Linked DNA regions of Homo sapiens: all the other regions are linked to region 1. Evidence: fine-mapped expression QTL. A gene starts in region 1. Each other region holds a variant in brackets. All regions are shown on one strand. Distances are from middle to middle. Region 1 holds the start of DRC1 (dynein regulatory complex subunit 1). Region 2 overlaps DRC1 (dynein regulatory complex subunit 1). Region 3 overlaps DRC1 (dynein regulatory complex subunit 1). Region 4 overlaps DRC1 (dynein regulatory complex subunit 1).

Region 1 (8,206 bases):
AATCTAAGTTCTGATCCATTGCTGCAATTACTGTTGGCTATTAATAATATATATGTAAGCTTCAATATAACATATTTTAATCTCTTTTCCTTTAATTAACAGAGAAGTTAATTCAGGGAGCTTCCAGGCTCGCACAGACTCAGCTGCATGCATTTGTTTTGAGAGCACATTGAAATGGTACAGAATGGTCCCAGCTCACTTACGCACAATGCGCGGCCCCAACCACTAATAAAGAATAGAGGCAGGGCGCAGTGGCTCACGCCTGTAATCCCAGCACTTTGGGAGGCTGAGGCAGGTGGATTGCCTGAGGCCAGGAGTTCGAGACTAGCCTGGCCAACATGGTGAAACCCCGTCTCTCCTAAAAATAAAAAATTAGCTGGGTGTGGTGGCAGCTGCCTGTAATCCCAGTTACTCGGGAGGCTGAGCCAGGAGAATCACTTGAACCTGGGAGGTGGAGATTGCAGTAAGCCAAGACTGCGCCACTGCATTCCTGCCTGCATAGACAGAGTGAGACTCGGCCTCAAAAAAAAAAAAAAAAAAAAAAAAGATATAGCCTTTAAAAAAAAAAAACAAGACCACCATACCATTATCATAGCCAAAAAGTTCCTTAATATAATTGAATGCCCAGTACAACTCTTTACATTGACAGCTCTTTCTCACCCTCACTGACCACCTACCTTCAGGTGCCACATCTATTATTCTTCATATTTGCTCATTGCTTGTTTCCGTTAGGATTCTTTTCAAAATGTATAATTATGTTATTTGTTTACTTGTTTAGTTGCACTTTATTTTTTCCCATCTCCCTCATTAGAATATAAGCTTCCTGAGAACAGAGATTATATTTGCCTTGTTTATCATAGAATCCCCAGCACAACTGCCAAGGTCAGAGTAGCAGACAAGGGCTTGATCCACAGAGAGTTTTAAAGATGGCTTACAAAATATGGCATCATTTGGTGCAAAACGAAAGGGCAGCCAACAAGAATACAACTCATAGGTGCTCACCAAAGAAAGCAGCAAAGGATAAATAGGCTAAGGGTGCACGCTGGTAAAGATTCATGCTCCCTTGCCCAATTCCTGAACCTAAGCCAGTGTTCAGAGCCAGAATCTATTGACTGAAGAGGCAGCAGGGTCCCCACAAGGAAGGATCTGGAACACAACGGCAAATATATATTGTAATGATTCCCCCAGTTCTTCCCCAAAGGGGCCTAGGGTCATCTACTCAGGAGGGCTGCACAATAAGGAAAGAGGATACCCAGAAATGTTTAGGATTAGAACAGGGTCTGAGTTACCATTGACACCCAGAGACCCAAAGCATGCTCCCACCCACTTAGAGTGAGGACACAGGGGAGGCAAAGTCCTACTTACAGAGGGTCTGCCAAGTCTGTGGACTCAGCCAGCAATCATGTCTCTAATGGCCAAAAGTATAATTGGGACCTACATACTTAGAAGTTTGAAAAACTCCACTCCTTGGCCTATAAATAGAGCTACCATAGTGGGGAAGGCCAAAAGGACATCTCTGAAACTGCACCTCAGTACACAAAAAAAAATATTGCCACCCAGGGGTGTTGGTGGGGATTAGTGCCACCCTGAAGTATCTCAACGATGCAGGAATGGTGATCCCTATTGAATCTCCTTTTAATTCATGGGTCTGGCACCTGCAGAAACTGGATCCTAGAAAGTGACTGTCAACTACCAGAAGCTCCACAGGTAGCACTCCTGAACACAGCATCTATGCAAGTGTGGTAAGCTTCACTAGAGCAAATTTGTACAGCCTCAGGCACAGTATGTGTGGCTACTGATTGGGCCAAATGCATGCTTTTCTACCTCAATCAGGAAAAATAATCAGGAAGTTCACATTTACATGGAACAGACAATGATATACACTCACAAGTCGGTCACACTCACAGGACCATGGTAGTTCTCCTGATCTCTGTCATAATATATTCTGAATATATCAGGGACATCTGGATATCCCAGAGAACATCACAATGATCCATTACTTCAGCACTGGCAAACTATGGCCTGTGGGACAGATCCAGTCCACCACCTGTTTTTGTATGGCTTCCAGGCAAATAATGATTTTTACAATTTTTTTTTTTTGAGACAGAGTCTCGCTCTGTCGCCCAGGCTGGAGTGCAATGGCACGATCTCAGCTCACTGCAACCTCCGCCTCCTGGGTTCAAGCGATTCTCCTGCCTCAGTCTCCTGAGTAGCTGGGATTACAGGCGCGCGCCACCATGCCTGGCTAATTTTTGTATTTTTAATAGAGACAGGGTTTCACCATGTCGGTCAGGCTGGTCTCAAACTCCTGACCTCGTGATCCCGCCCGCCTCAGCCTCCCAAAGTTTTGGGATTACAGGCATGAGCCACTGCGCCCGGCCCAATTTTTTTTTTTTTTTTTTTTGAGATGGAGTTTTGTGCTTGTCACCCAGGCTGGAGTGCAGTGGCGCTATCTCAGCTCACTGCAACCTCTGCCTCCCAGGTTCGAGCAATTCTCCTGCCTCAGCCTCCCAAGTAGCTGAGATTACAGGTGCCTGCCACCACACCTGGCTAATTTTTGTATTTTTAGTACAGACAGGGTTTCGCCATGTTGGCCAGGCTGGTCTTGAACTCCTGACCTCAGGTGATCCTCCTGCCTTGGCCTCCCAAAGTGCTGGGATTACAGGCATGAGCTACGATTTTTTACAATTTTAAATGGTTTTTACAATTTTAAATGATTTTTACAATTCTAAATGGTTAATAAATAAATGGTTAAAAAAAGACTAGGATGAATAAGCAGAGCACAGGGGATTTTTAGGGCAGTAAAAATATTTGGTATAATACTATACTGGTGGGCTCGTGTCACCATAAATTTATCCAAACCCATAGGATGTACAACACCAAAAAGAAACCCTAAGGTAAACAATGGAGTTCAAGTGATAACGATGCGCCAAGGTTCATATATTGTTACAAATGTGCCCTCCAGTGCAGGATGTTGACAGTAGCTGTGCATGTGTGGGGGCAGGGAGTATATGCGAATGCTATACTTTTTGATCAGTTTTGCTGTGGTCCTAAAAACTGCTCTAAAAAATAAAGTTTATTATTATTTTTTATCAAAAGAAGGCTATTTTGTGATACATGAACAGTATATGAAATTCAAATTTCAGTGTCCATAAATAAAGCTTTATTGGAACACAGTCATGCCCATTTGTTTATGTCTTGCCTGTGGCTGCTTTTGCAATACAATGGCAATTGAGCAGCTAGGAAAGAGGCCATATGATCCGAAAAGCCTAAAATATTTACTATTTGGCCCTTTACTGAAAGGGTTTGCCGGCCCCTGCATTCCACTGATGGCCCCGCAGCAATCAGCCAGGGTGAGCGAGTGATGGAAACACACTGCAGGGCTTGGTAAGACATGTGTGCTCCAGACGGTGGGCAATCAACCCTATGAAGGCCCAGGGACTGCCATGTCATTCAAGTTTGTAGGGGTCCAGTGGTCAGTGGGATGCTGGGATAGCCTATCAAGTAAAAAACAAATCTACTGCATTTTGCATCCTCTACAGAGAAGGAAACTCAATGCCTCTTAGGCCACTTTGGGTCCTAGAGACAATACATCCCGCACTTAGGAATATTATTCAGGCTGACACAAAAAGCTGCCAGCTTTGAGTGGTGCCTGGAACAAGAAAGGACCCAGGCCACAGTGTAAGCAGCCAGGCTACTTGGGCCACATGATCCAGCAGACCCTGTGGTTTGGAGGTGTCCGTAGTGGAAAAGATGCCATGTGCAGACCACAGTCGAACGCCACCACGCCCGATTAATTGTTTGATGTTTTATAGAGATGGGGTCTCTCTATGCTGCCCAGGTTGACCATCTCCAACTCCTGGGCTCCAGTGATCGGCCCGCCTCGGCCTCCCTAAGTGCTGGGATGACAGGCGCGCGCCACGGCACCGGCCCAGCGTTTTACTTTCCCATACTCTGCCTGAACCTTCCCGAAGAAATGTTTCTATTTCATCAGGAAACCAGCCCTTCTCCGGCTCCTGCGGCGCGGATCCCGCCCCGCCCGCCCCCGCGCTCACCGCCTCCGGGCTTCTAAGCGCGCAGCGATGCGGAGGCGCCGGGCCTGGATGCGCTCCTGAGAGTTGTCGGAGTGGACCGAGGGCGCGAGAATCTGGGTGGACAAGTGCTCGTCCACGTTCGGGTCCAGGGCCTCTAGGGACCCCGGCGGATTCATGGCAGGAGTCCCTGGTCCCTAGGCGGCTCCCTCCGCACCACCTCCAGACCTCAGGCTGGTTGCTAGGAACAAACCGTTGCCAGGGAGAGCGGTCACCGGAGCCACAGCCCGAGTGGTTGCGCGCGCAGCTCCCTGGGCCCAGCCTGCCGCCAGCCGCCGTTCCGGCCGAGCATCCCAGCCTCGGGCTGACGCCTCTCCCGCCCGTGGGATGTCAGGTCTGTTGTCAGGCCCACGAAGGCCCGGTCGTGTTAGCGGAGCTGTGGAGTCTCACCAGGAGACTAGAGGACTAAAGAACTGGACCAAGTTGTGGTTCATCACTTGCTGACCCTGATGATTAATTCATCTTCCATTCATTCATCAAATATTCCTCCAACTCATATTCACCAAATAAAATTGAGCGCCTACTCGATGCCAAGCGCTGTGCTTGGATACAGGATACCAACCTGCAATCAAATACTTATGAAAGAGGAAAAGTGGAATAGAGGAAAACAGTCCGTGGGAGGGGGGAGGGATAAAAGTTAGAAATGCGGAAGCACTATTAAATTCTCAACTGTCCCCAGAAAGGCGCTATCTTCTGGGCGTCTCATTGTCAACAAAAATAGTGTTCTCATTGAGAATTAAAACCTGGCGCGCTGGCTCATGCCTCAGCCTCCCAACACTTTGGGAGGCCGAGGTGGACAGATCACTTGAGGTCAGGAGTTTGAGACCAGCCTGGTGAACATGATGAAACCCCGTCTCTACTAAAAATACAAAAATTAGCTGGGTATGGTGGTGGGCACCCATAATCCCAGCTACTCGGGAAGCTGAGGCAGGAGAATCGCTTGAATCTGGGAGGTGGATGTTGCAGTGAGCCGAGATCGAGCCACTGCACTCCATCCTGAGCAATAGAGCAAGACTCTGTCTCAAAAAAACCCAACCAACCAACCAAACAAAAACTGGATACCATTTAACAGGGTTCTGTCCCATTAGCCCGTGGGGAATTAAGGGCACTGGATGAGCAGTGAGAAAGGGTGAGTACTAGTCCTAGCCCTGCCCTGCCACCTTGGGCAAGTCACAACTTCTTGAGGAGCATTTTCTCAGCTGTTAAATGATGCAACCCACAGACAACTGTGCGGCCAAGACGACCCGTCCTTTGTGAGTAAGAACTGCCCAGAGGCAAATGGAGTGGGTTTTTAAAATCAGTTCTTCCACGTTTGCAAGCAGTAGAGAGGTTTAGGAATGCCAAAACCATCCAACAGCTATAGAGTCTAACAGCAGCTGCCTGGATCCTTGTCTCACACCTGCCTAGGTGGTGGTGGTAGGAGCGGGGGTACTTGCTTCTAGGCTTCAGGGCCTTCTGCCAGATCTCTGTCTCCTTTGGTTGAAACCTAAAGTATTAAACTCTCCTAGGAGCCATGATACAGCTCTGACCAAAAACTCGTCCAGGTCCTGGTTCATGTTTCCACTATCCGTAAGGACAGAAACAAGCATGTGTGCATGCGCATGTCTATGCCTGGGAGTGGGATACCATGAGAAAGTCAGGGGGAATCAGCTGTTGCACAAGAGGTAAGTGAGAGCAAAGGTACCATACAAACCCATGAAGAGTGACCAGTGAGATACTTGGCCCTGCACTGTTCTGATACCACTTCCAACATCTTTTTATATAAGAAATCTGACTCCATTTTTTGCTGCTGACATTTGGCTGCTGGCAGCTTTTACGCAGCACTCCCTCTTTCTTCTCCACATCTGGGCAAGCTGTTAAAAAAAGCCTAGGTGCTCTTTTTGGTGCTGGCAGATTTCATCTGCGTGCACAGGATACCCTCCTCCCAGCCTCACCCCTTAACCACAATAAAAGCCCCAAGCTTGTCTCCTTTCCTGGCTCTCTCTAGCCATTTTCTGACCAGCTGGGAGGCCCTCTTTGCTCCCACAGGCAGCCTCAATTATGTAATAAACCTTTTTCACTGGTGTGGGAAACACTTTCACTCACCGCTGGAAAGGGACCTCCTAGGAGGACAGTTTGCCAAAATCTATTAACTGTTTAAATTGGCATACTAGGGTAAAGGGTGGAATAGGGAGAGATTTGTTAAAGGATACAAAATGACAGGTTCTAGTGTTCTGCACCACTGGAGGGTGACTATAGTCAATAACATAGTTTCAAATAGCAACGAGGATATTGAGCATTCCCAACACAAAGAAATGACAAATGTTTGAGCTGATAGGCATGCTAATTACCAGACCTGATCACTATACATTATATGGATTGAAATATTACTATGTACCCCATAAACATATATAACTATTATTTCCTTTTTTTTTTTTTTTTTTTTTTTGAGACAGCGTCTTGCTCAATTGCCCAGGCTGGAGTGCAGTGGCATAGTCTTGGCTCACTGCAACCTCTACCTCCTGGGTTCGAGCGATCCTCCTTCCTCAACTTCCCAAGTAGCTGGGACTACAGGCGTGTGCCACCATGCCCAGCTAATGTTTATTGTATTTTTAGTAGAGACAGGGTTTTACCATGTTGGCCAGGGTGATCTCAGACTCCTGACCTCAGGCGATCCACCCGCCTCGGCCTCCCAAAGTGCCAGGATTACAGGCATGAGCCACTCCGCCCGGCCTGCCGAATTTTTTTAAATACTAAAAATTTTTTAAACTGAACAAAGGACAGAGAGAGGAAGAAATATTTTCATGGGGCAGACAACTGTGGTTGTAGAGGTCAAAGGAATGAAACAAAGAGACAAAGAAAAACCACTAAACAAGAAAGTCAGAAGACATGTAATGAATTATGATTAAATATAAATGGGAAAATGCATGCTTAATTTTCCATGCCTTTGTAAATAGTTCATAAGTGAGTTAAATTTAGAAAATTGTTAAAAACTGAAAAAACTAGATAAAAACATATTTATTTGTATACACACAAAAATAAATTAGCATATCCATTCACTAGGCAATTCTAGTTTAAAGATCATCACAAGGAGATCATGGATCTAGCTATAGCTCATTGGGGTCACAACTATATCAGTTTTATTCGGTATTTTATACATAGCACCTAGCACAATATTTGATATGTAGTAAGTGCTCAACAAACTTTTTTTGAAAGAAACGTATATAGATGTATCTGTATGTCCATTCCAGTTACTTGTAATATTAAAAAACTAGATATGACAAAATCCATCAATAGGGGAACCGATAAAAGAATCATGGGATTCTCTAACACAAGAATAAAGGTGACCTAGAAAGACATCCAAGATACATTACATGAGAAAGGGAAGAGGCAGGCAGCACAATATAGAGCCTAAGCCGAGTTTGATTTGAAATGTAGACAGTAGTACACAAGAAAAACAGGGGGAATACCACAAAGTAGTCAATATCCCTCAGGGGTGGGCTTATGGGTGATTTTCAGATTCCCTGAAGATTAAAAAAAAATGTTTACAATGAGGATAAATCCCTTTTGACTCAATAAAACATAAAGCTTATTTATTCATGTTTTTGTAAGAGAAATAACAGGAGACCCCCAAGAGAGTGAGGCAGGCAAGTAGGGCTGTTATAGATGAGAGGGACTTGGGGAAGGGAGGCAGGTGATGTCCATTCACCTTGATGACTGACCAGCATCTAGAGTGTGGTCCTCAACTGGTAGGCAATGCTGGTTCATACTAATAAGCTCATACAGGCCGGGCACGGTGGCTCATGTCTATAATCCCAGCACTTTGGGAGGCCAAGGTGGGTGGATCACGAGGTCAAGTTCGAGACCAGCCTGACCAACATGGTGAAACCCCATCTCTACTAAAAACACAAAAATTAGCTGGGTGTGGTGGTGCATGCCTGTAACTCCAGCTACTCAGGAGGCTGAGGCAGGAGAATCGCTTGAACCCGGGAGGCAGAGGTTGCAGTGAGCAGAGATTGCGCTCTAGCCTGGGTGACACAGCAAGACTCCATCTCACAAAAAAAAAAAAAAAAAAAAAAAAAAAAAAAAAAAGCTCATACAAAAGCCTGGCTGGCTCATACTAACAAGCTCACAAA
Region 2 (8,206 bases), 44 kb before region 1:
TCACGGAGAAGATGGCATCCAGCCTCAGCAGATAGCATTCATTCTGCTCCAGGGGCAGGAGAAGGCTCAGCAGCTTGCTCTCTATGAGGAACCCCTGGGGAGAAGGAAGAAGGCATCTCCTGTCGGGGACAGGTTTCAGGAGCGAGTCCCAGGGTCTGCAGCTGCCCCCTGTGTAACACTCCAGGGACCATGCCACGGAGCAGACGCCCAGGGATGGGAGCCAGCAGTGGGCCCCAGCAAAGCCTTCTTGGGGTGCCCATGAACGCCCCCCTCCCCAGGGAGCAAGGCCAGAGACAAGCAAGGCCAGGGACAAAGCCCATCCTCACCACAGACTTAGCTTTTCCCACCCAGAAGGGCACCAACCCACCTCACCCACAAGCCACTAGGCAAACTCCTGAGGCCCCCACCACAGTCCAAAGCTGACCCAGTCACAGGCTCCTGCTTCACCCATAGTCTTGTCCCCAAATATCTACAGAACACAGCAGCAGGACAGGGAGGCATGGAAAGCAGTGGGCACCCCAAACCAAAACACAGCACACATGCGGTGGAAGGGAGAGGGCGGCTGAGCAGATGCGGTGCCCGCTCTGAGCTGGGATGCCTGGGGGAGAGCTCCATGGGGAGGTGGCCTCTGCATCCAGCTGCAGGTTCAGAGGGCAGAACCTGCCACCTGACCCCTTCAGCAGCAGCTGCCCTCAGTGGCAAGAGCCAGCCAAAGGCAACTGCCCTCACTATCCTAAAAGAATACCCACTTCAGAACCGTAAGATCCAAACAAACACTGCCCATGTTTGACCACAACCCAACCTCCAGCTGAACCAGCTCAATGCAGCTTTTATTCTAAGGCTAATCATGTTTGCTAACATACAATGCAGACATCCAAATCCCAACATAGCCAGAGTCACCCCCAAAACAAGCCCCTGAGAAGGGCCATGTCAGTGTGGCCACATCACTTAGCAAGTTGGTTCATGGAGGTGAGCTGGTGCAACTTCTGTCTCAGAAGCAGCATCATTTTAAGCTGGCAGGAGCCCTCCAGCTGGCCTAAACTATGCCATGCTGGCCAACCAAGGTTAGACCCATTTTCCAGCTGGGCCAGCTCAGAGGCAAGGCCTCTATGAACCGGCCCTGAAGTCCAGGGGCCATCCTGACTCTGCTCCTCAGGGCCCAACCCTGGGCTTGGCCAGGGGAGGACTGGCCCACTCCTGACTCCAGGCTAGCACTGGCCCAGCAGAGGCCTCAGAACCTGCACACCCCCGTGAGTCCCTCTGCTGCAGCCCCCGCCTGGCCTCACCGACTCGTCACACAGGAGCATCAGGATCCTCTTGGTAGTTTTTTCAGAAATTTGCTTCGGCAAATCCAGGTAGGACTCTGGTTCCGCGGCGGCCTCTTCTGCCTCCTCCTCTTCTGCAGTTGGGTCATGGGGAGGAGAGAGAAAGAAAAAGAAGATAATTTCTGGAGCTAGTTGACTCTGAGAAACAGTCAGATGGCTTTCCTTGAGAAAATGTACCTCTTAAAAAGCCTCTGTGAGGCATTCTCTCAGTCTCTTTATGATGAAAAAAGCCTATTACGTGGCGGGAAGGCGGGCTAGGGGGTCGGAATCAGAGACTACCTGGAGAACTCGGCCATTCCCAGCCAGCCTGTAATGCCCTACTTTTCCAAATTGCGTCTACCTGGAAACATCATACTCAAAATCCAGCCATGAACCAGGAAGTGGGAGGGAGAGTGTGAGCCCATTTATTCTTATTTCAGAGATGATCTAGCAAGTGGCTATATAGTCTCTAAACCTGCAACAGATTAGACAGAAGCAGCCAACTCAAAGCAGGGGCAGGTGGCTTTGCACATTCACAGATAATTTTTTTTTTTTTTTTTTGAGATGGAGTCTTGCTCTGTCACCCAGGCTGGAGTGCAGTGGTGTGATCTCAGCTCACTGCAACCTCCGCCTCCTGGGTTCAAGTGATTCTCCTCCCTCAGCCTCCCAAGTAGCTGGGATTACAGACACCCACCGCGACACCTGGCTAATTTCTGTGTTTTTCGTAGAGATGGGGTTTTGCCACATTGGCCAGGCTGGTCTCGAACTCCTGAACTCAAGTGATCTGCCTGCCTCGGCCTCCCAAAGTGCTGAGATTACAGGCATGAGCCACGGCGCCTGGTCCAGAGAAATATTAACAGCAAGAACTGACAGCTGACAGCAAGAGCCAAAAATTTTCTTAATTAAAATTAACTTCTTAGGCCAGGCGTGGTGGCTCATGCCTGTAATCCCAGCACTTTGGGAGGCTGAGGCAGGTGGATCACTTGAGGTCAGGAGTTTGAGACCAGCCTGGCCAACATGGCAAAACCCCGTCTCTACTAAAAATACAAAAATTAGCTGGGCATGGTGGCACGCACCTGTAATCCCAGCTACTCAGGAGGCTGAGGCAGGAGAATCGCTTGAACCCAGGAGGTGGAGGTTGCAGTGAGCCAAGACTGCACCACTGCACTCCAGCCTGGGCAACAGAGTGAGACTGTCTCAAAAAGACAAAAATAAAACAAACGAACAAAAAACATAATTAAATTGTAAAAAACCATTCCCTAATAATCAAAAGCAAAACGAAACAAAAATACCTATATGTGTATCAAGCTGGTGATATAACCACACAGAAACTATTCCAAGTGCATTTATTTTTATTTATTTGTTTATTTATTGAGACAGAGTCTCGCTCTGTCACCCAGGCTGCAGTGCAGTGGCATAATCTCGGCTGACTGCAACCTCCACCTCCCGGGTTCAAGTGATTCTCCTGCCTCAGCCTCCTGAGTAGCTGGAATTACAGCCGCGCGCCACCATGCCCGGCTAATTTTTGTATTTTTAGTAGAGACAGGGTTTCACCATGTTGGTCAGGCTGGTCTCAAACTCCTGACCTCATGATCCGCCCATCTTGGCCTCCCAAAGTGCTGGGATGACAGGCATGAGCCACCGCACCCGGCCTATTTTTATTTTTTTTTTAATTTTTATTATTTTTTATTTTTTTGAGAAAGAGGCTCACTCTGTTGCTCATCCTGGAGTGCAGTGGTGCAATCTTGGCTCACTACAACCTCCACCTCCCGGGTTCAAGCGATTCTCCTGCCTCAGCCTCCTGAGTAGCTGGGATTACAGGCGCACGCCATGACCGGCTAATTTTTTGTATTTTTAGTAGAGACAGGTTTTCGCCATGTTGGCCAGGCTGGTCTCGAATTCCTGACCTCAGGTGATCTGCGCGCCTTGGCCTCCCAAAGTGCTGGGATTACAGGGGTGAGCCATCGCACCTGGCTCCAGGTGACTTTAAAATATAGCAATCTGTCTGTACATCCCTGGAGGGACACATTTTAAGAATAAAAGGAACCATAAAACAGTGTAAACTGTCTTTAGTAATCATTTGTTGGTGGCAGGGCTGATATTTTCCTCTGAGGCAGTTCTGTGGTGCTGTGGGGAAGGCATGTGATTCATTATTTTGAAGTCACTGAGCACTAAGATTTTAAAGTTGGAAGAAAGGGGATACACTTTGATACTGTTAAATAAAAATCCTGGCATCCTGTTGATGAGGAGGTATTAGAATGAACTCATGATTTATTTTATTACCAAAAAAAAGAAATCCTATACTCTCAGCTCTGTCCACTGAAAAGGCCTAGAAACAATGGCCAATCCAAAACAATAAGCACCCAGCGCCCACAGCGTGGTTTCTAAATACCATTCCCTGGGCATGCATGGTGACACAAGCCTGTAATCCCAGCACTCTGGGAAGGAATCGCTTGAGCCCAGGATTTGAGACCAGCCTGGGCAACATGGCAAATCCATGTCTCTACAAAAAAATACAAAAATTAGCTGGGCATTGTGGCATGAGTCTTTGGTCCCAGCTACTCGGGAGGCAGAGGTGGGAGGATTGCTGAAGCCTTGGCGGCAGAGGTTGCAGTGAGCCGAGATCCCACCACTGCCCTCCAGCCTGGGCGACAGAGTGAGACCATCTCAAAAAAAAAAAAAAAAAAAAAATTCCCTATTTGAAAGGACCAGGGGATCCTTGGAGAAATGGCTGATTCCAGACAAGAGGCAGGAAAAGTATAATGTGTGCCTTGAACACCTGGTCATCCTGGAGAGCCAGGACGCTGTTAAAAAAAACTACTAGGGCTAGCCAAGCGTGGTGGCTCACACTTGTAATTCCAGC[C/A]TTTTGGGAGGCTGAGTTGGGGGGATCACGGGCTCAGGAGATGGAGACCATCCTGGCCAATATGGTGAAACCCTGTCTCTACTAAAAATAAACAAAATTAGCCAGGTGTGGCAGTGCGCACCTGTAGTCCCAGCTCCTCGGGAGGCTGAGGCAGGGGAATTGCTTGAACCCGGGAGGCGGAGGTTGCAGTGAGCCCAGATCGCGCCACTGCAATCCAGCCTGGCAACAGAGCGAGACTCTGTCTCAAAAATAAATAAATAAATAAATAAATAACTACTAGGGCTGAATCAAAAGGACCCAGAAGCCAATATGAAGATTTCCACTAGCCAAAGATGGAACAATTTGAGCCTCAATAAGGATAATTACTTTAGTAAACTAAAATACATCAAATTTGTTTAAACTCATGCATTCATAATATTTTTTAAAAACTCATTGGTACCTTTGGAAGATGCTAGAGGCCCAACCCATTATTTTGAAAACTGGTAAACAGAGAAAAAATAAGCATCTATCCTGCTTTTCATATACAGACTATCTCAGGGTAGCAAATTGCTGAGGAAGGGAAGATTTTCTTTTAAGAAGTATTCTGTTAAATAAAGACACAAGAACAGAATCTAACATATCACCATTTTGCAATCCCTAATACAGTTAATGGATCTTAGACAATGATTAGCAATGGTTGCTAACATCACAAAAAGGGAGACAATTTAACATTAGTTTATCCCGATGGAGGTACTACACAATAGTGTACTTAGCAAAAATAAATTGGACCTGCATCTGATCAAGCTTCTAGACCTAACTGCCAGTTTATAATACAGGAGAGAGAGCAAAGCTATAAATTAGAGGAGACTTAAAAGCGATACCAATAATCATACTCTTCCCCCTCCTCCCTAGACTATCTCTAACGTGACTGGCTTGACCCGATGTTCTCAGGGGGCTCCTCCAGCTCTAAGGCTCTATGACAGTGTTCTAGTCACCTGAGCGCATAAGCATTTCTTCTACTATCTGTGTGGCGGACTTCTGGGGCTGCTGAGAAATAGGCCCAACATTGTTCAGGAACCAGAAATCAGGTGCTGCCCAGGGAAGCCCCAGATGATGGGTGTGGATGATCCTGTCCACATCAAAGGCTCTGGCTATTAGGTCCTTCGCCTCCTCTTCATTCATCAGCCAAATCTCCCAAAACTTCTCATCATCAATAAGAGCAAAATGCCTGTGAAGGAGAGTCACAGAGCATGGCCAGCTGGCCCCAGGACCTGGCCAGGGTCCCCTCAAATAGCAGCAGGGCAGGAATATGAAAAGGAGCTGTGCTAATTCCTGGGCCTGGCCCCATCCCTGGGCGGCTGATTCCCACTTACGATAAACTGGAAGCCATCCCAACACATCTCAAGAAAAGGCAGGTGACACGCAAGTGAAGGGCCAGGGGAACACACCACAAAAGGTTAACTAGTGCCTGGTCCAGCCCCAGAATAGCTGGTGACATCAAGTCCAACGAAATCACAGCTTGTACAAACTCCATCCCCGTCACCTCTATGCTAGGACAAGTGCCTTAGGACCAAGTCCTTAAGATACCTCATGGCTTTCTGTAGCTCCTTGAATTGCATCACAAGACGTTTGTAGTCCGAGGTTAGAGACTGGTTCTCCTCCTGAAACTGCTTTATTTGCTTGGCATATTTTGATCTCAGATTGTTAAGTATATCATGCAGGCTGGTTGAAGGAGAAAAAGGTTAGTCTGCAGCTGAATAGAAGGTATTATGTATGTTCCTCTCATCCACCTGATTCAGCTCTACCACAAACCCAGGAGCAGATCTGTGGAAGAGCAGAAAACCCTCCCATATATTCCAAAACACAGATCCCATTTTGATCAACAAAAGGAAGGCAACAGGAGATCTTGGGACAGTCCAAAACGAAACGCATTGAAAACAATCCAGAGCCCATTCCCACCAAGAGGCAGCCTCCTACTCAAGACTGTGGACAGAACCTACTTCACAATACATCATTTGTCAGAATGCCCATACCCATACCTAGGGCCAGCCTCACATATTTAAATAATCTATCTCAACGATTTCATTGTCATGACTTGGATGTTTAATTCAATCATGAAGCAAGAAAATTTTAAAGAAAAAAAATGCATATCACAAAAGCCTATGATACATAAATCTTCCAGCCTCAAAGAGCTGATACCGTTAACAGGTCCAGTAACTCATTCATTCATTCATTTATTCACTCATCCACGTATTCATTAAACAAACATGAAATGCCACTTTTGCGCAAGGATATGTTGAAAGACAAAGATGAATACAAAGATACGTTTCAATACAAGGTACTATCAGTCTAGTCAAAAACAAAGACAAACGTTAATTACAGTACAGCGTGGAAAGTGCTATAGGAGAGTTTTATGCAGGGTGCCAGGGGAGCCCAGAGGTGAGGCATCTAACTTACCCAGGCTTGCAGGGGAGGGGGTGGTCCAAAATTTCCAGAATAGCAAGAGGCAGTTAAAACCTGTCCAATAGCACTGTGAATCCAGGCACGGCACAGCTCACCATCTCACTGCTAACAGGAGCTCTGTGCATGGAAACTCGGCCCATAAAATATGCATGGCAGGCGCAATGTTTAGACCCAGGCCCATACTTCAGACTTCAAACTACTACAGAGGTGGCTCTTATCAGTGCCCCATTCACACAGTAACAGAGAAGCTGAAGGCCAACATATTTTAAGTTTAGAAATTCTAAAAATAAGATTTTCCCTCTCCTAAGCATTATTCTGAAATGATCAAAATGTCTCTCAAATGCAAACATTCATCATTCATATTTTCATCATCAAGAAAATGCAAAAAAAGTCGTTACCTTAGTCTCTGATAGAAAGAAACAGCTAACCCATTTCCTTAACTACAGCCTTCAAGGAGGCTTTCCAAGCACAGATGTAAAAATAAGTAGTCATTCCAAAGTGTTTTTTCCCAATGTCATGCAGTAAAGGAGTTCCTATGTGTCATCTAATTACCGAAGCTAACAAAACAAACTCCAGGTGCATACTGAAGGTCTGGGCAAGATAGCAGGCGAGGAAGTGAACAGGGAAGAATGGCTGCAAGAGGAAGCTCAACAAAAAAAGTCCAGAGTTCTTAGTGCCTGGAAGCTAGAGATGCAGGGGAGTGAGGCTGGAGAACTGGAAACAGGGAGCAGAGGCAAGTCTGGTTTCAGAAACTGTGCCCTGGAAATGACAGGGCCTCTCCAAGCTGAACTGTTACGTTGGCAGTTCCAGGTAAATGAAAGGTGAGCTCAGGATTGGGGATATGAGGTTGGCAGTCATCAACAAAAAGGGGATATTCAAAACCATGAGACTGAGGTATGTGGCAGATGAAATAAAAATTAAAAGCAATGGTAAGGCCTGGATTTTCTAGATTGTCTTATCTAGATACTCAAGACATATCAAGCAAGGAAAAGCAGAACCACCAAAGGAAACAAATACATTAAGAAAGAAGAGCAAATATTTTAGGGTCATTTAAACCAAAGAAGAAAATCCAGTATCCAATCATAATAGATGAGGCCTGAGGAGAAGCCACTGCGCTTGGCTAGAAGGGCATCATCAGTATCCTACTGTGGGAAGTTTTTGTCCAATCCTGGGGTCATAGGTTGCTACGGCTTGAATGTAACTCCTCCAAAATTCAGTGTTGTCAATGTGATAATATTAAGAGGCAGGACCTTTAAGAGGTAATGAGGCCATAAGGCCTCCTCCATCATGAATGGGATTATGGGATTAAGGCCTTTATAAAAGAGGCCTCCCAAAGCCTTAGGCCAGCTTGCTCTCCCGCTCTTCTACTGTGTGAGGACACAGCATCCCTCCCCTCTGAAAGATGCAGCCCTCACTAGAAACTAAACCTGCCAGCCTTGATCTTGGCCTTCCCAGACTCCAGAACTGTGAGAAATAAACTTTTGCCTTTGTAAATTATCCAGTCTCAGGTAGTCTGTTAGAGCAGCACAAACAGATATGTCAAATTGTGAAATGCTGGGTGGTGGTGAGCAGGAAAGGAAAATGGCAATGAAAGCAA
Region 3 (8,206 bases), 54 kb before region 1:
TTCCCTTCCTAGCTTTTGCAGAAGAGCCAGCTCCAGTGGTGGCCTCTGGGGCCATGGCCAGCCTTGATGGCCAGAGGGGTGCCTAGAACTGCACACACAGCCCAGGACAGCTTCCCTCTTGGTCTTGGCCCCTCGCCACACCCAATCCCTTCTCCTCCCTGTCCCTCCTCTGCGCTCTCTACCCTTCATACTCCAGCCGGCCCGACACGAGCTTCATCTGGTTCCTGAACCCTCTCAAGTCGGCTCGCTACTTCTTGTGGCACACGTATCGCTGGCTGCTCCTCAAACTGTTGCTGCTCCTGCTGCTGCTCCTCCTCCTCGCCCTGTTCCTCTACTCTGTGCCTGGCTACCTGGTCAAGAAAATCCTCGGGGCCTGAGCCCAGTGGCCTCCTGGGTCTGATATTTCTTACTTCTTCCTCTGGACCAAGGGCTAGGCAGGCGCGTGCACACACACACATATACACGCACACATCCACAAACACAAATATGCATACATGTGCACACAAACACACACAAGCATGTATGCACACATGTGCCACGCACAAGTGCATACACATGCACTCAAGCACACACAGGCACACACTTAAGCCCACACAAACATGCACAGCAACTTTCAAGCTTTCATGACAGAATAGACTCTCAGAACTAGAAATGACTATTTTACACTTTTCCACATTAAGCCAAAGAGGTGAAGTAGCTTGCTCAAGGTTACCCAGCAAATTAGGGTAGAGCCGGGACTCAAGCCAAGGTTTCCAAATTTCCAATCCTGTGTTCTTTGCACACCACCTCTGCTCCCAGCCATGTTTCTCCCAGACTGTAACCCAATTTTTTTTTTTTTTTTTTTTTTTTGGAGACAGAGTCTCGCTCTGTCGCCCAGGCTAGAGTGCAGTGGCACAATCTTGGCTCACTGCCAGCTCCGCCTCCCGGGTTCACGCCATTCTCCTGCCTCAGCCTCCTGAGTAGCTGGGACTACAGGCACCCGCCACCACGCCTGGATAATTTTTTGTATTTTTAGTAGAGACGGGGTTTCACTGTGTTAGCCAGGATGGTCTCGATCTCCTGACCTCGTGATCCGCCCATCTCGGCCTCCCAAAGTGCTGGGATTACAGGCGTGAGCCACCGCGCCCAGCCGACTCTAACCCAATTTCATTGGCAGAAAGAAGCTGAGCTATGGACAGGGAAAAGGGAAGGGTGTGGCCAGGGTTAGCCAACAGGTCTGGAAATGGCTCTCACCCGTGTGTGACCTCCCAGTCCAGGGCTGTTGTTTTCTGCCCTTCAGGATAATAATTCCATTCAACTCAAACATTTCATAGCCACCATGGCCTGAACACCCAACTGCAGGTGCTCAGAGCTCCCCAGGCACTGGCTCACTGTGCCATTGCGCCAAACCCAGGAGGTAGGTACTGCTTGTAACCCCATTTTATACATGAAGAAACCGAGGTTGATAGAGGTGCCTCACTTGCCTGTGAAAACCATTCAAAACCAGGTGCCCTGCACCCAAGCCCCGGCTCTGTGTCCCCACCAATACTGAGCTCAGCTCTGGGGCTGCACGCCATGTCCTCTGGGAGGCAGTAGTTTGAAAATGCATATGCAGTACTTTCACTTGTATCTTGACATTTTACAAAACCTATTGTTTTTATAACACAAACGACAGATAGTGAGGCTGGCCAGGTGCTTCTCGGCTGGGAGGCTCTACAGAAGGTGGAGTGGGTCTTCATCCTGAGAGTGGGCAGGTCGGTGAGGGCAGCTTGCACCCCACAGGGGCTGCTCAGACCCTCAGCAGGGCCCGGTGGGAACAGCCATTTATGTCCATCAGAAAGGAAGAGGTTGTGAAGCACCAGTCTTACCAAGGACGTGGGGCAGCACATAGAACGAGCTAACCGCAGGAGCTTCCTAACGATGAGAACTGCCTGCAGGGCCAAGGCTGCCCCATGCTGCAAGTAGCTCCCATCTAGGCCTTAGGAGGAGATTCGGGCCCCAAAGGTGCTGCAGGGAGGATAGAGTTTTGTAAGCAGCAAGTCGGGTACTTAGAAATGGGTTTAAACCCTGGCTCCAGCATTCACTGCTTTTGGGGCTGGGGCCATGGCAGGGCTTTTGGGGGTCCAGAAGGACAGAGGATGGGGTGCACTGGGAGGCAGCTCCTGCCCACTGGCTGACCGGCTCCTCTCTTCCACTTCCCAGCCGGCCCGACACGGCCTTCGTCTGGTTCCTCAACCCTCTCAAGTCCATCAAGTACCTCATCTGCACCCGGTACAAGTGGCTCATCATCAAGATCGTGCTGGCGCTGTTGGGGCTGCTCATGTTGGGGCTCTTCCTCTACAGCCTCCCTGGCTACATGGTCAAAAAGCTCCTTGGGGCATGAAGGCCGCCAGCTCCCGCCAGCCGCTCCCCAGCCCTGCCGCATTTCCTTTCAGTGGCTTGGACTCTTTCCCATCTCCCCTGGGGAGCCTGAGGAGCCCAGCGTCCACTCTTCATGCCTTGGGCCGAGCCTGCCTCCTGCTTGCGGGGGCCGCCTGTCCTCACTGCCCCAGGCTGCGGCTTGCCCAGTCCCGCCCCTCTGACCCCTGCCTGTGGGCTGGGGAGCCTTGGATGGGGTGGGGACCTGGAATGGGTCTCTCTTGCCCCACCTGGCTGAGGCGCCACCCTTCTTCAGGCCCAGGCTCCAGAGGAAGACTCCTGAAACCCTCCCCAGGTCTTCCAAGTACAGGATTGAAGCTTTAGTGAAATTAACCAAGGACCATGGGTCAGTGCCCAGGGCTTTAAAAAGAATGAACGAGCAAAAGGTATCCCCGCCGTGACCCCTGCAGATAGCACCGGTCTTTGATCCGCAGCAGGGGCCAGACCCTGCCCACAAGTCCCAGCGCGGCTGCTTCTGCCACTGCTGGGCTCCACTTGGCTCCTCTCACTTCCCAGGGGGTCGCCTGTCCTGCCTGTGGGTTTCCATGGCTTCCCAGAGCTCCCTCTGCCCCAGCCAGCGCCTCCAGGCCCAGCTGAGGAGCTGTGAGAAGCAGCAGAGGGGACTCCCCATCCCGGGCACACCCTGTCCTCCCACCCCTGCCCCCTTGCCCTTCCAGCCCTTTCAGCTGCAGCTGGGAGCTGGCCCGTCAAGTGCTGCCCCTGCCTGTGTCTGGGTTTCTGTTGGCTGTTTTTCTTTTCTTGAGTGGTGATTTTTCTCTAAATAAAAGAAGTCAAGCACTGAGCTGACAGGTCTGCACTGGTCAAGCTGAGAGGAGCAGCCGCAGGTGCGGGGCAGAGGCAGCAGTTCTCTAGGCTGGCAGATTCAGTACCAGCAGGGCTCCCATGGCCTTTCCCCTTCAAGTGGCCTCTGGTGGCCCAGGGTTCAAGGCAGGCCTCAGGCACAGGGCTGCCCACCCAGGCTGCCCACAGGAGGAGTCTTACACCATAGCCCAAAGGGCACACCAGCCTGGGCCCAGGGGCCCCCAAAGCACCGAAAGAATCCTTCAGGTCTGGGGCCAGTCTGAAGGCTTAAGGCCCCACAAGGGCCCAAAAGCTCTAGCCTCCACCCACAGAAACCAGTTCCCCTGAAAGCAAGAAAGGAGCCCCACGCTACTGGCCTCGGCCTCTGACTCACACCACTATCTGAGCCTGGGGCAAAGTCCCCTCATGACACAGAGGTAGGGGCAAGGGCCTGGTCTTGCTAGACCTGACCTCTTTAAAGAGATTCAGCCACAACTTTAAAAGGCTTTAATCATAATGCAGGACACAGGTAACTCCTCTGGCTCCTTATTTCGACAGGCTATAAAGACAGCCCTGGAAAATCCAGAGAGCAGGCCCAGGTGCGGCCCAGTGGGTGATATGAGCTGGCTCCGGCACAGACACCAGCATCAGGCCAGCCCTAACACATCAGCCTTTGGCGGTCCAGCTCATTTTGTGGGTACCCGCAACA[C/T]CTGAGTGGGAGGAACTTGCAGTTCAGAGTTGATCTGGAAAAGAAAGGGTGAAAGTCGTTACATTTTTCCCAGGGCCCTCCTTCTTTGCCACCCTTGCGAGCCACGCTGGCTCTCCCATGGGCCTCCAAAGCCCTGCACGCATCTCCTCTCCAAAGCTGAGAGATGCTGAACACCCACAGACTGCCTCCCTGCAGGAGACACGCCTGAGCCTTCTTGCTCAGCTTCTGCTCCAGCTGTGACCTCTGGTAGCGTTCTTCATCTCCCGCCCGTCCATTCTCTGCAGTCTTCCCCTCTCCTCTCTCCACGCACCCATGCCATCCCCAATCTAGCCTGCCCCACCTCTTCCTCCCCCAGCCTCTTGTATACAGTAGCATCTGTGGAAGCGGGAACCATACCGTCCAGAATGTCTGGGTCCTGTCACAGGCCAAGGGTCATTATGAGGCCAAGGTTCACTACAACATCCCACTTTCAGCTGTGGCCTGGGACCTGGGACTGTGCTGGGGCCACGCAGCCCCTGTGGCTGGACTTGGAGCTGGCCTCAGTCACCTCACACGTGTGCAACTAACAGCTGCGTCACGACCTTCCTGGCCTACAGCCCCAGCTGCAGGTGCCCACACCCGCAGAGCAGGAAATGTCAGCAATGGACTTTTTCCTTCCTCCTCTTGCCAGGCCATGGGGAAGTTGTCCACAACTATTGCAGGGTTGGGCACAGATGGGGGCCAGGGAATATCTGCCCCAGCAGAGCCTCCTTCCCCATGCGAGGATGACCCTCCAGTCATATCCCAGGCAGGGAACCGGGGCTGGTGGGTGGAAAGAGCCCAGGCTCTGGACGAGTTGCAAACTCTGCAAGTTGTGATTGTCCTTTGTGTGAAATGAGGAGCATTGTTTCCGCCCTGTCCACCTCACACAGCGGGTGTGAGGATGGAAGAAGAGAGCACAGCTGGAGGCTCTGTAGCTGGGGAGCTGCTCCTGGCTGTGGCACTGCTTCACACAGAGCAGTCCCAGCTGGCCACTGGCACCAGAAACCACAGTATCAAAGAGACACTGTCACACCTGAGCTGTCCTGGAGGAGACTTCAGGCAAGATCTACTCCTTTGGCCAGTAGTTGTCTCAAGGTGCCACTCTTGATTTTTTACATCATATCACAAAGCTCCCTTGCCTCTGACGGGGAGGGGACTCCTCGTTCCCTAATCCCAGCTCCAGTGCCCCTGCCCCACCCGTGTCTCCCGCTGCCCCTCCTTGGAAGGCCCCGCCGCCCACCTTGGAGTTCAGATACTGCTGCAGTAGCGCCTGCAGCTCTGTGTTCTGCTGCTCCAGAGAACTGTTTTCCAGCAGCAGCTTGGCCCTCTGGGTCAGGACAAGGCTTTGGACAGAAAAATCGGTTAGAGGCTCACTGAATCCTCCATCCTCTGCCAAGTAGGGGCCAGGGTCTTGGTGGTTGTACTTTGGCTACAGGTGGAGGGAGACTCCAGAAGCTACACTCTTCACCCAGCCGCCAGGTGAGCCAGGTTAGCAGGAACAGAACAGGCAGGCCAGGGCCCAAGAGCCAACTGCCCCACATGATCCACCCACACAGGAGATGCCAAGGGCAGCTCTTCCCTCCCAGGTTCAGTGGGACAGGGAGGCAGCAAACGCGGCTGCTCCCAACAACCGTTCCTCACCTGCCCGCCAGCACCCTCCTGCTCCATGACATGCACACTTACTGGTACTTCTCCAAGGCTGTGTAGAGGGCATCCCAGAGGTTCTGCTTGGAGGAAGGGATCACTGTGGTCAGGGCCTGCCAGTACTCCGAGTCCTTGGAGTTGTCACGCACATTCTTCTGTACCCTCAGCGGGGCCCGCGAGTCCCTGAAGGCCAAGAGCACAGTGATTGTCATGTCCATTGGGTACTACCCAGGCCCCCAGGCAGTGCCAGTCACAGGCCTACTGCTTTCCCACCTGTCACCTTCCCACTCAGCAGTCCAAGTTTATTAGACGGTGGCAGGTTCTCAGAAAGGACGCATGCTTATTGTCAACGTTCCTGCCTCGGTACCACCGGTACCTTCGTGAGGGCATAATCCGTGCTTCATCCACCCCTCTCTCTCCCAATCAGTTTACCTCACTGGCTTTACAGCTCATCACTGTGCCCATCTCTTGCACCAACACATCCAAAACAGCACTTGAATTCAGTCATGTCCTCTCCATCCCCTCATGACAGCCTTAATCTGGGGGATCCTCACCTCCCACCTGGACAAGCCTCCTGATGCTTTCCCTGTATCCAGCTTCGCCCCTTCCCTGACGCCACAATGATCTCTCTAAAACGCAAGGCTAATCATGGCTCTTCGGCTGCTTCAAATCCTTTTCTGGCTCCCACCCACCAACGGGTAAAGACAAAGATCTTGGGCACATTGGGCAAGGCTCTCCAAGACCTGGCTAGCTCCCCACCCACCAGTGCCACCTCCCAGGCCCTTGACACTCCAGCCAGACCTCCTGTGATGATTCTTGAACAGACCAGACCTTCCCCATGCTGTCATTTCCTGAAATGCCCTTACCTCCATTTTATCTGCCTGGGAACACCTAGTTCCAGTGCCATTTCCTCCCAAAACCCTCTGACATGCCAAATGGAAACGGCCACTTCCTCCTCTGAACAATGGTGCACCTTGAATGTGCTTTGACCATTACTCTGATCACAAGGCAGTGCCCCCACAGTGCTTACACATGGCAGCCTTCAGTGCATGTCTGCTGAATGAATGATGAGTGAAAAAAGCACAGATCACCACTATGCCCTATTGCTTTCCTGACTGTCCAGCGATTGGTTGCCCCAGCCCGCCTTCAGATAGCCCTGTCCTTAGTCCCCGCATCTTGCCCAGCAGACTCTTCTCCACTCACTGGCTCTGCCTGGCTCCCCAGCCCATCCAGCTCCCCTGGTTCTGGTCTCAGGCAAGCCTTCCAGCCCCGCAGCCCACCTAGGCTTCTTCAGACCCATGACGAAGGCCTCCAGAATCTTGAGGACATCATTGGGGTGGATGACCCAGGGGGAGGGTGGGGTCTCCTCCTCTTCCTCCTTCTCCCCTTCCACCAGGCTTTCTTCCTTTTCTCCCTCCATCTCCGTCTGCTCTGCCAGCTCCAATTCTGACCTCGTGCTTGTCTCCTCCATGCTCGCCTTCTCCATGCTCGCCTGACTGCAGGGCTTGATCTGGAGAAAGATGCACGGACAACTGTGGGCTGGGGACACACGAGCATGAGCATGGAGAGAGAGGCAGGAAGAAGAAAAACCAGAAAAGTTTACAGAAAGTGACAGCTTGCCCAGGGAGACATTTACACAGGGACAGAAACAGGAGAAAGAGTGGGAAGAAGGGGGATGGGATGGGGAGAGGCACTAGGAGGCTACGAGAAAATGGAAAGGTTCTGTTTCTAAATCCGGGCTCCTAGGTGCTCACCTTACTGACATTCATAAAGCTTACATGTTAGAAATCTTCTTTTGAATCATAATACAGATTAAATTTTTGCTTTAATTGTTAAATTTAAAAGGTCTTCCTCCTACTCCTATTTTGCAGTTCATGCAATTGACCTCCCACAGGCAAACGAATGCTATCAAGTTTCCTATGGTTCCTTCCAAGGAAATAGTATGTCTATATAATGTTTATATATAAATACATGCGCATACCTTTCCATATATACTCCTCCTTCTCGTTTTGACATCAATGATACTATACTACAAATAGAGTTCTGTAGTTTGCTTTTACACTTACCAATAAACCTTAGGTACCTTTTCATGTGAATACATAAAGAACTTTGGTTTTTTCCCACAGTTTTATAGTACCCCATCGTGTAGACATACCATATATTATTAAATAGATTCCTCAACAATGGACATATAGGTTGTTTCGAATCTTCTGCCATTTCAAACAATGTACAGTGAATCAGCTACAATAAATACACCATTTCAACTGTAATGAGATATATTTAGAGAATAAAATCCTAGAAGAAGAATTTCAGAGGCCAAGGTGGGCAGATCATTTGAGGTCAGGAGTTCGAGAGCAGCCTGGCCAACATGGTGAAACCACATCTCTACTAAAAATACAAAAATTAGCCGGGCGTGGTGGCAGGTGCCTGTAATCAATCCCAGCTACTCAGGAGGCTGAGGCAGGAGAATGGCTTGAACCTGGGAGATGGAGGTTGTAGTGAGCCGAGATCGTGCCACTGCACTCCAGCCTGGGCAACAGAGTGAGACTCTGTCTCAAAAAAAAGAAGAAGAATTTCAGAGTAAAATGTATATAGTTTTGTAATTGATACTGCCAAACTGTCCTCAATGGAGGT
Region 4 (8,206 bases), 23 kb before region 1:
ATAAAAATTAGCCAGATGTGGTGGTGCACGCCTGTGGTCCCAGCTACTTGGGAGGCTGAGGTGGGAGGATCGCTTGAGCCCAGAAGGTCAAGGCTACAGTGAGCCATGATTGCACCACTGCACACCAGCCTGGGAGATGGAGCAAGATCCTGTCTCAATAATAATAATAATAATAATAATAATAATAATAATAATAATAATAATCATCTGTACAAAGAGAAAGTGGTTTCAGAAGAGTCTTAGAAGGCCTGAGATAAAGCATAGTAGATGGAGTGGAATGGACTCTGCTCAGGGCAAAGCTCTTAACAAGCACCCAGGACCAAACCCCTCAATGTTATCACCTGCTGCAAATCTCCCTGCAAGCTCCCAGAAAGCCTAGAGTGTCCTAGCTGAGCAATTAATGTCCAGGTTCCAACACGAGAACATATCTACTGCAGACTAAGTTGCATTCCTTAACTAAGGACTAAACTCTGGAACAGCATTTGCTGTAAAAATACTACGGTCATGTGCTGCATAGCAACATTTCAGTCCATGATGGACCACATATACGACAGTGGTCCCATAGGATTATAATACGGTATTTTTTTTTTTTGAGACAGAGTCTTGCTCTGTTGCCCAGGCTGGAGTGTAGTGGCTCGATCTCGGCCCACTGCAAGCTCCACCTCCCGGGTTCACGCCATTTTCCTGCCCCAGCCTCCCGGGTAGCTGGGACTACAGGCGCCCATCACTATGCCTGGCTAATTTTTTGTATTTTTAGTAGAGACAGGGTTTCACCGTGTTAGCCAGGATGGTCTCGATATCCTGACCTCGTGATCCACCTGCCTCGGCCTCCCAAAGTGCTGGGATTACAGGCGTGAGCCACCGTGCCCGGCCATAATATGGTATTTTTACTGTGCCTTTTCTGTTTAGATACACAAATACTTAGCACTGCGTTACAACTGCTTACAGTATTCAGTACAGTAGCATTCCGGACAGGTTTGTAGCCTAGGAGCAATTAGTTATATCATATACCCTAGGTGTGTAGTAGGTTATACCATCTAGGTTTGTGTAAGCACATGTTATGATGTTCTCACAACAATGAAATCACCTAACAATGCATTTCTCAGAATATATCCCCATCATTAAGTGATGCATGACTGTATTTCTATTAGATAGCTAATAATTCTACAATTATGACAAAGCTTTTACTTCTAGTTAAAAGTTTATCCCTTGAAAAGACATCAAAATTGGAAGAGTTAAAATTATCTTTGTTCACAGATGACATGATCTTATATGCAGAAAAACTAAAGATTTCACACACAGGAAAACCTGTTAGAACTTAAATTCAGCAAAGTTGCAGGACACAAAATCAAAATTCAAAAATCACACTATTCACAATAGCCAAGAATTGGAATCAACCTAAGTGTCCATCAGCAGATGAATGGATAAAGCAAATGTGGTACCTATACACAAGGGAGTACTATTCAGCCATAAAAGAGAATGAGATCCTGTCATTTGCAACGACGTGGATGGAATTGAAAGGCATTACGTTAAATGAAATAAGCCAGGCACAAAAATTCAAACTTTGCATGTTCTCACTCATTTGTGGGAGCTAAAAATTAAAACAATTGAACTCGTGGAGATAGAAAGTAGAATGATAGTTAGCAGAGACTGAGAAGGGTAGTGTGGAGGGTCAGGGAGGAATGGGGATGGTTAATAGGCACAAAAATATAGTTAGAATGAATAAGATCTAGTATTTGACAGCATAACAGCGTGACTAAGGTCAGCTAGATTTATTGTACATTTTAAAATAACTAAAAGAGTATAACTGGAATGTTTGCAACACAAAGAAATGATACATGCTTGAAGTGATGGATACCCCATTTACCCCAATGTGATTATCACACATTGTATGGCTGTATCAAAATATCTTATATACCCCATAAATATATACACCTACCCATAAAATTTTTTAATTTTAAATTTAAAAAAAAAGCTCAGGTGCGGTGGCTCACAACTGTAATCCCAACACTTTGGAAGGTGGAGGTGGGTGGGTAATTTGAGGTCAGGAGTTTGAGACCAGACTTGGCAACGTGGTGAAATCCCATCTCTACTAAAAACACAAAAATTAGCTGGGCATGGTGATGTGCGCTTTAATCCCAGCTACTTGGGAGGCTGAGGCAGGAGGATCACTTGAGCCCAGGAGGTGGAGGTTGCAGTGAGCCAAGATCAGTCTACTGCACTCCAGCCTGGGTGACAGAGCGAGACTCTGTCTCAAAAAAATTAAATTAAATTAAATGTTTAAAAAATTTTAAATCAGTTGCATTCTTATATGCAAATAATGACCAATCCAAAATAGAAATTAAGAAAATAATCCATTTACTATAGCACCAAAAAGAATGAAATACTTAGGAATAAACTTAACAAAGTAGGCAAAAGCCTTGTACACTGAAAACTGTAAAACATTACTAAAAGAAATCAGAGAAGATATAAACAAATGGAAGATATCCTGTGCTTATGAACTGGATGACTCAATATTGTTAAAAATGTCCATACTATACAAAGTGATCTATAGATTCAGTGCAGTCCTTAACAAAATCCCAACATCATTTTTTGTGGAAATAGGAAAACCATCCTAAAATTTGTAAAATTCAGAATCTCAAGAGACTCCAAATTGCCAAAATAGTCTTGAGAAAAGAACAAAGTTGGAGGCCCCACATTTCCTGGTTTCAAAACATACTACAGGCTGGGCGCAGTGGCTCCTATCTGTAATCCCAGCATTTTGGGAGGCTGAGGTAGGTGGGTCACCTGAGGTCAGGAGTTCGAGACTAGCCTGGCCAAAATTGTGAAACTCCATCTCTACTAAAAATGCAAAAATTAGCCAGGCATGGTGGTGCATGCCTGTAGTCTCAGCTTCTCGGGAGGCTGAGGCAGAAGAATTGCTCTAACCCTAGAGACGGAGGTTGCAGTGAGCCGAGATCAAACCACTGCACTCCAGCCTGGGCGACAGAGCAAGACTCAGTCTCAAAAAAAAAAAAAATAAACAAAAACAAAACTGCAAAGAGCAACAGGAATTAAAGAATGTTGTACTGACATAAAAATAGATATATAGACCAAGGGAACTAGAGAGCCCAGAAATAAACCCCTACATATATGACCAAATGGCTTTGACAAGGGTCAAAATGATAAATGAATGATACATAAACCCCTGCATCTATGGTCAAATGACTTTTGACAAGACTATACAGTGGAGAAAGGATAGTCTCTTCAACAAATGATGTTGAGAAAACTGGATATTCACAGGCAAAAGAATGAAGTTGGGTCCTTACCTTATACCATATACAAAAATAACTCAAAATCGATTAAAGACCTAAAACTATTAAACTCCTAGAAGAAAATATAGAGGACAAGCTTTCTGCACATTGGATTTGGCCATAATTTCTTGGATATCACACCAAAATCCCAGGCAGCAAAATCAAAAATAGACAAACGGGGCTGCACCAAACTCAAAAATGTTTGCACATCAAAAAAAAAATCAAGACTAAGAAGGCAATATACGGAATAGGAAATCATAATTGAAAATCATATATCTGATAAGGGGTTAATGTCCAAAATACATAAAGAACTTCTATAACTCAAAAACAACCCAATTTAAAAATAAGCAAAGGATTTAAATAGACATTTCTCCAAAGATGATATACAAGTGACCAATAAACACATGAAAAACATGCACAACATCTCTAATCGTTACGGAAATGCAAATCCAAACCATAATGAGATATCGCCTCACACCATCAACACGGAAGCTATCAAAAAAACAGGATGTAAGTGTTAGTGAGAATACAGAGAAGTTAGAACCCTTGTGTACTGTTGGTGGGAATGTAAAATGGTGCAATCATTATAAAAAACAGTATGGAGGTTCCTAAGAAAATTAAAAATAGAATTACCATATGACCCAGCCATCCTGCTTTTAAGTATACATCCAAATAATTCAAAGAAGTATCTCAAAGAGATACGTGTATACCCATGTTCATAGCAGCATTACTCACAAAAGCCAAAACGTGAAATCCAACCCAAATGTCCATTCACAGGAGAATGTATAAAACAAGATGTGGTATATATATGCAATGAAATACTACGCAGCCTTAAAAAGGAAGGCAGTCCTGTCACGTGCTACAACGAAGTCCATCTATACTAAGCCAAATATGCTAGTCACAAAAGGACAAATGCTGTATGATTTCACTCACAGGAAGTATCTAATAGAGTAGTCAAAATCACAGAAACAGAAAGTAGAAAGGTGATTACCAAGGTCTAGGGGGAAGTGGAAGAGGGAATTGGTGTCTAAGGGGCATAGAATTTCCATGCTGCAAGATGAAAAAGTTCTTAGAGATCTATTGCATCTGAATGCTGTATACTTAACATGACTGAACTATACAGTTTTTTGGTTTTTGTTTTGAGACAGAGTCTCACTCCCTCTGTCACCCAGGCTGGAGTGCAGTGGTGCGATCTCGGCTCACTGCAACCTTTGTCTCCCATGTTAAGGCGACCCTCCTGCCTCAGCCTCCTGAGTAGCTGAGATTACAGGTATGTGCCACCATGCCCGGCTAATTTTTATATTTTTAGTAGAGATGGGGTTTCACCATGTTGGCCAGGCTGGTCTCAAACTCCTGACCTCAAGTTATCCGCCTGCCTCGGCCTCCCAGAATGCTGGGATTATGGGAGTGAACCACCTCATCCAGCCCATGAACTATACACTTTAAAATGGTTATGATGGCAAATTTAATGCTATGTGTTTCTTACCATCATGGAAAAAAGTTTATAACATGACTTGTACAGCATTCTAAATAATGAAGTAAAAGGTTTCTACATTTTTCCATTCAGGAAAAGCAAACCAGTAACCCAGCTAAATCCCAGGCAGATCCCCTGTGGCTGGGCTGGAGGGCC[C/T]GGGCCTCTTGCCTGCTGTAACTCGCTGATGAGTTTATTCTTATCTTCTAAGAGTCCAGCACAGTGCAGCTGTTGGGTATTGAGCATTTCCCACAGCTCTTGGGGAATTCTCTTCTGCTTGCCCTCTTCCCACTTTGAGGTGATTTCATCGAATTTGTCCTGGCTGGTCTTAACTTCATTCTCCAGCTTCTCAATCCTGCAAATACATACATGCCAGCCATGCCAACCCAGCTCCAGATGCTGCCTTCCAGTAGAGCAGGTACGTTCTCTAGAATCTCTAGAATATAAGACCCAGGTACTAGGCACTGCCCAAACACACCCGCCCAAAATCAAACTCAATGCTGAGAAATCTTTTCGTTTAACGCTTGACTGTAAATAACTTAGGCCAAGTAAAGAAAATGACACATAGCAAAAACAGATCAACATTAAGGCTACACACACACACACATACACACGCGTGCACACGCACACACACCAAGATCGATTGGTCACCTGCTTCTGAGTAAGATGATAACACACAACAGTTAAACACTGGGTCTCTGGAGTCACAGAGCTTATGTTCAAGTCCTGACTTGGCTCCTAACTGACTGTCAACCTTTCGGACAAGTTGCATAACTCCCTCAAGCCTCACTTTTCTCTTCTGTAAAATGGCGTGGATGAAAAGTATCTACCTTCAAGTGGCTGGCTGTTGTCAGGATGAAATAAGATGCTGCACACAGCACAGGTGCTCAGCATGGGAGTCACTTAACACATGGTGCTTAAATTATCAATTTTATATTAGCAACATGACCTCAAGTGTCTGGCTACTCCTCTCCCAAGTTACCAATAAATGACTAGTGGAATGTACAAATATGGAAACTCCACCAATGAGTGATGGAAAATAGGGACAGCCTTTCCATAAATTCCAAAGAACCTCCGTGATAGAGCACACCGAGGCTGGGGCGAGGTGGCAGGAAGGCAGGAGAGCTGAGCTGGGGCCCCTCTGGGAACAGTGGCTAAGATATCTGCCAGAGACTCTCTGCTCCTTGTAACAGACTAATCCTATGAGAGCACCTCCAAACAAACCCCCTGAGGAACCGAAGTCACAGCTTAAACATCCTGCAATCCCCTCTTCCTGTCCCATCCCCCACCCACCCCACCTTCCAAGCTAGGACACTTTTTTAATTTAATTGACTTTTTTATTTCAAGAAATGAGAAAGAGCTGTCAGGTCATCTTTCCGCAGCACACTGACCTTGTAACCTGCCACCTGGGACCTTCAGCATTCCTCTGTGGCTAGAGGACAAGGCCTAACTCCTTGCATGACCTTCCCTGCCTTTCACAAGCTGACCCTGCTGGGAATCTGCCGACTCCATTCCTGGCACAGCCCATACAGGCAGTGGGAAGTTTCGAGAATAAAAGTCACCCACGTTTACTGGTAGGGCTGCTAAAGTTGCTAAAGAGGGAACTGCTTATGCTGAACAACTAAAAATATTGTTAAAATCGACCCCTGTGTGTATATGATGAGACAAAATGGTCAAGTGGTTGCCTTTTTTTTTTTTTTTTTTAAAGACTAGGTTTCACTCCCATTGCCTAGGCTGGAGTCCAGTGGCACACTCTTGGCTCACTACAACGTCCACCTCCTGGGCTCAAGTGATCCTCCTGCCTCGGCCTCCTGAGTACTGGGACTACAGGTGTGCACGCGCCACCACACCCAGCTAATTTTTTGTGTTCTTAGTAGAGACGGAGTTTCACCATGTTGGCCAAGCTGGTCTTGAACTCCTGACCTCAAGCAATCCGCCTTCCTCGGCCTCCCAAAGTGCTGGGATTACATGCGTGGGCCACCCCGTGCCTGGCCAAGTGGTTGTTCTTCTAATTGTTTAAGAAATTAATTGAAGAACAATCCAAAGCTTAAATGAGGACCTGCTATCAGTCTACTTCTGTGTGCAAACCAAAGAAGTTTAATTCTTCTAAGCCGCTTATGCCTCCCTGCTGGACAGCCTGAGACCTGGGACATGGGCGTGCAGGGCAGCCTGCCTCCTGAGGACTGGAGCTGAGGACTTGACGCAGGTTCTTGTGATCCCTGTGAACCTCCATCCTTCTATGCATGGAGCCCTCAATATTCTTTAATAATGCTGCCACCTTTACACATAACACTGAGGTATTCGTGGGTCTGGTCATTCTCACCAATTGAAACCCAGGACTGCCCAGTTGACCTTCTTAGCCTCTTCTCTTTTCTTCCATTACCCGCATACATCCTTCGCTATCATGCCATTCCCAAGCACATCATGTGATCTCACACCTCTGCTCAAGTGTTCCCTCTGCCTAAAATGCCTACTCTTCAATTCCTCAAATTCCTATTCATCCCTCACAGCCCAGCTCAACGTCACCTTGCCTGGGAAGTTTTCTGTAATCTCTGCAGATAGAATTAAAGGCCTCCTTGTGTGTGTTACTACAACCCTTTACACATTATCTATTTTACCACGAATTATGGGTGTTTCCATGTGTCTCTTGACTAGACTGTGAATACCACAAACAGAGGCCGTGTTTCACTCCTTTTGTATACACACAGCTTGGCACGTATCAGCAATGTAGTGCTTGAGGAGGGGAGGAAAGAAAAGAGATGAGATAGCCGGGCGCGGTGGCTCACGCCTGTAATTCCAACACTTTGGGAGGCCAAGGCGGGTGGATCACGTGAGGTCAGTAGTTCGAGACCAGCCTGGCCAACATGGTGAAACCCCGTCTCTACTAAAAATACAAAATTAGCCTGGCTTGGTGGCGCATGCCTGTAATCCCAGCTACTCAGGAGGCTGAGGCAGGAGAATCACTTGAACCTGGGAGGTGGAGGTTGCGGTGAGCCGAGATCACGTCATTGCACTCCAGCCTGGGCAACAAGAGCGAAACTCTGTCTCAAAAAAAAAAAAAAAAAAAAGAGAGAGAAAGAAGAGGAGGGAGGGAGGGAGAAGTTATAAGGGCAGGAAGGGAATTGTCTAAGGTGGACAAAGTCACCCTCCAACAATTCGGGAGAACTGCCGGACCCATGGAGATTACCTTCATGTCCACCAGCTGCAGAGTAGCACAGTCCTTACCTTTGACGCTTTATCTCCTCTTCTTCGACTCTCCTGTGAATCTCTCTGATATCTATAGCCACCTGGATATTTGTCACCAACTCGGTGCCACAGAGCAGAAGTTTAGCCAATTTCTAAAAAGAGAGATATAAGAATTTACAAAGCTAGAACACTTTGTAAATAATATATAAAGTCTGAAACATTTTTGCACAACTGTCCGCAGCTTCTATCCATTCAA

Evidence for each region. PIP is the estimated chance that this variant, and not a neighbour inherited with it, causes the effect.
Region 2: its variant is fine-mapped to the expression of DRC1 in nasal epithelium (TOPMed, PIP 0.98).
Region 3: its variant is fine-mapped to the expression of DRC1 in whole blood (TOPMed, PIP above 0.99).
Region 4: its variant is fine-mapped to the expression of DRC1 in testis (GTEx, PIP above 0.99).

Annotation. Positions count from the first base shown.
Region 1 is chr2:26,397,994-26,406,199 of GRCh38, reverse strand. It overlaps DRC1 (dynein regulatory complex subunit 1), which reads right to left and starts at 4,280. Exons shown (of 17, transcript NM_145038.5): 1 at 4,056-4,280. The coding sequence starts at 4,210.
Region 2 is chr2:26,441,884-26,450,089 of GRCh38, reverse strand. It overlaps DRC1 (dynein regulatory complex subunit 1), which reads right to left. Exons shown (of 17, transcript NM_145038.5): 9 at 5,734-5,868; 10 at 5,142-5,374; 11 at 1,287-1,399; 12 at 5-94. Among named protein-coding and RNA genes, the nearest start is that of DRC1, 44 kb to the right of the region's middle. The variant C/A (reference allele first, on the strand shown) is at 4,168.
Region 3 is chr2:26,452,196-26,460,401 of GRCh38, reverse strand. It overlaps DRC1 (dynein regulatory complex subunit 1), which reads right to left. Exons shown (of 17, transcript NM_145038.5): 14 at 6,853-7,082; 15 at 5,612-5,755; 16 at 5,169-5,271; 17 at 3,691-3,941. The coding sequence ends at 3,885. It overlaps OTOF (otoferlin), which reads left to right. Exons shown (of 47, transcript NM_194248.3): 46 at 197-394; 47 at 2,182-3,199. The coding sequence ends at 377. Among named protein-coding and RNA genes, the nearest start is that of DRC1, 54 kb to the right of the region's middle. RefSeq lists enhancers at 1,630-2,199, 2,200-2,770. The variant C/T (reference allele first, on the strand shown) is at 3,908.
Region 4 is chr2:26,421,184-26,429,389 of GRCh38, reverse strand. DRC1 (dynein regulatory complex subunit 1) reads right to left here. Exons shown (of 17, transcript NM_145038.5): 3 at 7,990-8,102; 4 at 4,936-5,119. Among named protein-coding and RNA genes, the nearest start is that of DRC1, 23 kb to the right of the region's middle. The variant C/T (reference allele first, on the strand shown) is at 4,924.